Linked DNA regions of Homo sapiens: region 1 is linked to region 2. Evidence: fine-mapped expression QTL. A gene starts in region 2. The other region holds a variant in brackets. All regions are shown on one strand. Distances are between the middles of the regions.

Region 1 (2,786 bases), 30 kb before region 2:
GCCTGAAATGTTTTCTCTTCCCTTGAGTTCTAATTAGTCTTTTTTGAGGCTTACTCAGGCCACTTTTCAATTTAATTTAATACATTTGTTTTAAAGTAGGTACTTTCTGCCCCATTAGATTGTGTATTCCATGAGAAGGAATTTTATCGTCCTTAATCTTTGTACCTTACATTGGCAGTATATTTTAGAATTCAAATAAATGTTTTCTCAATGGATATATGAGTATGGATGAAGGGATTCACTTTATTTTTATTTATTTGGTCATATTTTGAGACAGAGTCTCACTCTGTTACCCAGGCTGGAGTGCAGTGGCGCCATCTTGGCTCACTGCAACCTCCATCCCCCGAGACTCAATCAATCCTCCCACTTCAGCCTCCCAAATAGCTGGGACCACAGATGCACACCACCACGCCTGGTTGTTTTTTGTTTGTTTGTTTGTTTGTTTTGTATTTTTGGTAGAGATGGAGTTTCACCATGTTGCCCAGGCTGATCTCAAACTGCTGAGCTCAAGTGATCCACCCTCCTCATCCTCCCAAAGTGCTGGGATCACAGGTGTGAGCCACCGTGCCCAGCCAGGGATTCACTTTAAAAGAAAAAGAAATTCCTCTGAGACTGCAGGGAAAGGTGGAACAATGGATTCAGGGATAGATTTCGTGACGGATAAATTTAACTTATCTGTTGAGCATTGAGCTTGGTCAGGTATAAACATAACCTGCCACCCATCAGTCTTCATCTGTGCCATGACAAATGTCTCCTTTGTACCTCTTCACAACATCATGGTCAGAGTCCATAACACTCTGCTCCCTTTTGGTTATTTAAAGACTCAGTCCGATATGGCTTAAAACTCCAGTCTCAGGTCCAATGCAGAACTCATCTTAAGCCATGGCTTAAGGAACCTGCGGTGGAGAGAAGAATATGATCCCTTCTATTGATTCTGCTTCTCCTCTTCTAGTTCTCTGGAAGGTTCTCTAGAAGGGTTTTAGCTCCTTGGTGGTTGAGAACTAGGAGGAGGGCAGGGAGGAAAAGAACAACTCTCTTTTTATTTAACAAGGTAGTTATCACAAACCACTGTTTGCTGACAGACCATGCCAACCTGTTGTTTGGCAGATGTCAAAATGCTATCTTTCTTGCACATGGTGGCTCATGCCTGTAAGCCCAAGGCATTGGAAGGCTGAGGCAGGAGGATCACTTGAGCCCAGGAGTTTGAGACCAGCCTGGGCAACGTAGAGAGACCCTGTCTCTAAGAAAATTTTTTTTTAATTAGCCGAGTGTGGTGGCACATAACCTGCAGTCCCAGATACTCAGAAGGCTGAGGCAGGAGGATCACTTGTGCCCAAGAGATTCAGGCTGCAATAAGCCATGATCACAACACTATACCCCAGCCTAGGCAACAGACCCCATCTTAAAAAAAAAGATGCTGGCTCTCTTATGAGACAGTTATGTGAGTTCTTTAGAAGGTCCTACTGGGCTTCTCCACTGAGTTGTGCCCTAATGCAGAGAATCCTGATCCAAGCCATCTCTTTAACCCTCCTAACTTCTGTTCAGTGGCAGCCTTTTGGATGGGTTACCAGCATGATGGCTCAAGCCC[G/A]GCGATCTTCCTCAGTGTCCCTTTGATCACAGAAACTCACATACCCTTGCTAAGCCAAACAGAATGAATGCAGACTATTCCACTACTATCCCCTTACTCTGCCCTTCCTCCTTTCTCTAATTGCCTTTCCTCTTCTCAGACAGGTGCGGAGCTGAACAAATCCACTGTCTAAACAGATAGTTTAACCAAGGAATGAGAAATCAATCTCTCTTTCATGTAGATCTCTTTCATACTCCCTTGCTTACTTTAAGGGGGGAAAGGAGGGAAAAGTACTCCCTGCTAGGCTCATGACAGCCTCCCTTCAGTCATCTTTTATCTTATATAGCCTGGGAATGGAGGTGGGGTGGTAAGGTATGGGTTGGCTGGAAGTTGCAGGGCCACTTCTGCTACCTCTTTGTAAGCCCTGGAGAGGAGCTCTGATCCAATTATTAGCAACTCTCTCTAGAACGTGCAGTATTTAGTCCTCTTTGTCCCAGCTTTGGACCCTAGTCACCAATTCCAGGGCAATAGAAAAAAACCTTACTCAACATCCTCTATAATATATTGAAATGAAGGGAAGGTTATATGAAATAAGGAGCTCAACTGCATTCCTCAATGGGGAAGCAAAGTCATCTTTTGAGTGACAGAAGGAACCAGGAGTTTGAAAGTTCAGGCAGAATAAAGAAGACAGAGATAGACTGGAGATAGAACATCAGATGAAAGCCATGTATACTCTCTTTTCCCCATTAAAATATAAAAAGCACATATACATATTATTCCACAACATTTTACATATCATTTCAGGTGCACGTGGATCTAGGAGCTAAAGGATCCCAGATTAACAAGCCTTGGGCTTAAGAGAAAGCAAACAGGAAGGCGAATGTGCATTATTTGTGCATTCGAGAGGAGGGAGTGGGTATGTAGGCAGGCAAAGCCAATGCACAAAAGGAAGGCTGGACATTTAGGGACTTGCATCCACCCAGAAGCCATCCATGTCAGACACCAGTTTGACATGTCATATTATATTCCAAAGTATTCTGACTGCTTGAACACTTTTGTATATTCAGCTTATTTTTCAGTATAATGTTGTGATACATCCTTCTACAGAGTTAATATGATTAATAATTGAGGGACTTTAGAGAAGGGGCCAGAAATTTAATTATGCTTTAAAACGTAGCTTTTGGACTGGAAACTGTTAACAGCGAATACCTCCCTGAAG
Region 2 (2,786 bases):
TACACTGGCCCCTCTCACCTGAAAAAGGTAAAAATGACTAATTTAATGACCCATTGTCCAGTACTGAACAAGACTAGCACGGCAAGTGGAGATAGTGAAAGGCTGCCAGGCCCTCCGTCCCTGCTGTGAAATGGGAATAGTCTTCTACCCCTAAAGCAATAGTCATGCTCCCCAACATCCCCAGCATGACAGGGACTATAAGAACAAGAACAATTAACAACTTCACCCATGGGTGACAATGCCTCCACACACACCCTCCGCACCCCCCCTCTCCCAGGCAAATGCCCCTCTCTAACCTCGGTGTGGCAGAAAGACAGTCTGGCTGTCGGGCTGGACATCTGGCTGACTAGAGTCAGGAGGAGGCAGTGCTACTCGACTCTCACTGGCATGGAACTGGCAGTGGATTTGGGCACTGGCCCAGGCCAGGGCCTCACTGTGGGAAAAGGAAAAGGAGGCATCAGAGGTAGTTCCTGACCTCACAAATGCTTTCCCAAGCTCCCTATCACACCATCTTAACCAACAAGGTTAGATGGCTGTCCTAGTGATCAGGAAATCCACAATCCCAAAGAGAAACCATTAAATAAAGAGTAGCAGACTGTGCGTAAAAAGGGGAACGGGGGAGGGGAAGGAAAGCGTACAGCTATGTCATCCACATCTTCTGTTAAAGAGCCCTCTCCTACAATGACAGCACAGTGAGCAAGAGGAGGTGGTGTCGCTACAGGACAACCTGAGCTCTGCCTCAGCCCCAGAGATAATCTGGCTTCTTCCCAGAAGGGCCACCACCTTCAGTGCCAGCATCCCCACCTGGATGCAGAAGTGGCCGTGGGCGGAAGGGGGTTGGTGACGGTCACTACACACTCCAGCGCCTCCCCAGCCAAAAATACAGGACCCCGGCTGAGCTCTGCTACCACTTCAATCATGGCAGCTCCGGAATCAGATCTAGAAGGAAACAAGGCGGGGCGGAGGTCAGCACCTTGACAGGGAGGGGCGTTGCGGTGAGCACCTAGGGCTGAGGGCTGAGGACAGGGGTGGTCAGCACCGTGGTGCCCGAGGGAGCTCCTGGATATAGGAGGGGTAGGCGGGTGGGAGGGAGGCGACTGAAGACTCAGTACTGCCCAGGGGGAGGACATCGCTCTGGGCCCTAGACCCCAGCCCCTGTGCGACGGGTTCTTCTCCCTGGGCACCCCCGCGGAGTTCCCAAACTGGCCTCCGCTCCCCCTTTCCTCAAAGTTCCACGTCCCAGCCCAAGATCACCGCCGCTAGTCACCTCGCATAGTCGACACTAGGGATCGGCACCCCTAGGCCTCATCTGCCCGCCCCTCAGGGACCTGGCTAGGTACGCGGCGGCGGCGGCGGCGGCGGCGTCCGCTGGGCGGTAGAGGCGGGACTTCCCTTCGGTCCCCCACCCTCCGCGGAGTCCCTTCCGGCCGGAAGCGCCCGGCAGGCCAGACCGGAAAGGGCTCGGGTCATCCCGGCGCCCAGGGTCACCTTCCCACGGGCTGGCACCTGGGCGCGGGCGCTGCCCCGGAGCCGGCCGGCGGGACCTGGCGCCCAATCCTGGGGGACCCGGTGCCGTGGCCCAGGGGCCGGGCCGAGGTCCCGGGGGCGGTGCCTTGCGGGCCCGTCCCGGGGCGGTGCCTGGTGGGCTGGCCCCGCGGCTCCTCCCCTCTCTGCGGGCCCAGTCGCCCTTTGGCCGGGCGAGCTAATCGTCGGCTCAATGACGACGAGGCCCGACCCTTCCCGTCCAGGACCTACAGAGACAACCGAAGGAGAGCCCAAGGCGGCTTCTTTGCTGTCGCCGCCCCCACTGAAGCAAGAGCTCCCCGGCTCCACTGAAACACCAGCTCATTTAAGCTTTCCCCAACGCCCGGCCCTCCGGGACGATACCTAACAACGACCGGCGCCCGCATCTGGAATAGGCTGGCGAGATACTTAGTATCCGAGGGCTCGGGACTTGGCGCCATCGAGGTCATGGGGACCCAGGATCCAGGGAACATGGGAACCGGCGTCCCAGCCTCGGAGCAGATAAGCTGTGCCAAAGAGGATCCACAAGTTTATTGCCCTGAAGAGACTGGCGGCACCAAGGATGTGCAGGTTACAGACTGTAAGAGTCCCGAAGACAGCCGACCCCCAAAAGAGACGGACTGCTGCAATCCGGAGGACTCTGGGCAGCTGATGGTTTCCTATGAGGGTAAAGCTATGGGCTACCAGGTGCCTCCCTTTGGCTGGCGCATCTGTCTGGCTCATGAGTTTACAGAGAAGAGGAAACCCTTTCAAGCTAACAACGTCTCCCTAAGCAACATGATAAAGCATATAGGCATGGGCTTGAGGTGAGTAGACCCCATTGCCTAGAATGCCTTTGGCTTCACTTTGTTCCAGCTCAAAACTTCTAGCAGAGGTGGGAAAGGGCAAGAAAGCAGTTGGGCTTCTTGTCTGAGTGAAGCGGTCCCTATCCCTGGCATATTTTAGGCCTGTGGTTTTGGACCGTGAGACCAGGTCACATCTCTTTGCAACACCCTTCCCTCCCAGTGTTTTGTCTTTTCAGAAGGAAAGGGTAGGAACATTTGGTCATGCAATCAGCCTTTCCCATTCAGGCTCTTCTCACATACTGGTTTCCAATGACTTCCCTTTGGGATTAGCTATACTTTGTGGCAAGGTAGGAAAGGATAATCTGGCTGCTGTGATACTAACACAATGTTGTTTTATTTGGGGGTGGGGGGGTCTCAACCCCTTATTTCCCACAAGCAGCTGGGGCATTCTCTGTACCTCATTAGACACACTGTTAG

Which allele goes with the higher level. Positions count from the first base shown, and alleles are read on the strand shown. Sizes are in standard deviations (SD) of each study's normalised expression.
For the expression in non-classical monocytes of the gene that starts at base 1,389 in region 2, allele G in region 1 goes with a higher level than allele A (small effect, 0.39 SD a copy in Schmiedel 2018).

What was found. PIP is the estimated chance that this variant, and not a neighbour inherited with it, causes the effect.
Region 1: its variant is the best candidate, but not a certain one, in a credible set for the expression of RGP1 in non-classical monocytes (Schmiedel 2018, PIP 0.66).

The regions. Positions count from the first base shown.
Region 1 is chr9:35,778,377-35,781,162 of GRCh38, reverse strand. It overlaps a transcript of RGP1 not described here. Among named protein-coding and RNA genes, the nearest start is that of NPR2, 12 kb to the left of the region's middle. The variant G/A (reference allele first, on the strand shown) is at 1,589.
Region 2 is chr9:35,747,890-35,750,675 of GRCh38, reverse strand. It overlaps RGP1 (RGP1 partner of RAB6A GEF complex), which reads right to left and starts at 1,389. Exons shown (of 9, transcript NM_001080496.3): 1 at 1,268-1,389; 2 at 805-939; 3 at 297-433; 4 at 1-18. The coding sequence starts at 920. GBA2 (glucosylceramidase beta 2) reads left to right here and starts at 1,448. Exons shown (of 17, transcript NM_020944.3): 1 at 1,448-2,330. The coding sequence starts at 1,972. RefSeq lists silencers at 1,100-1,149, 1,180-1,229, 1,350-1,749.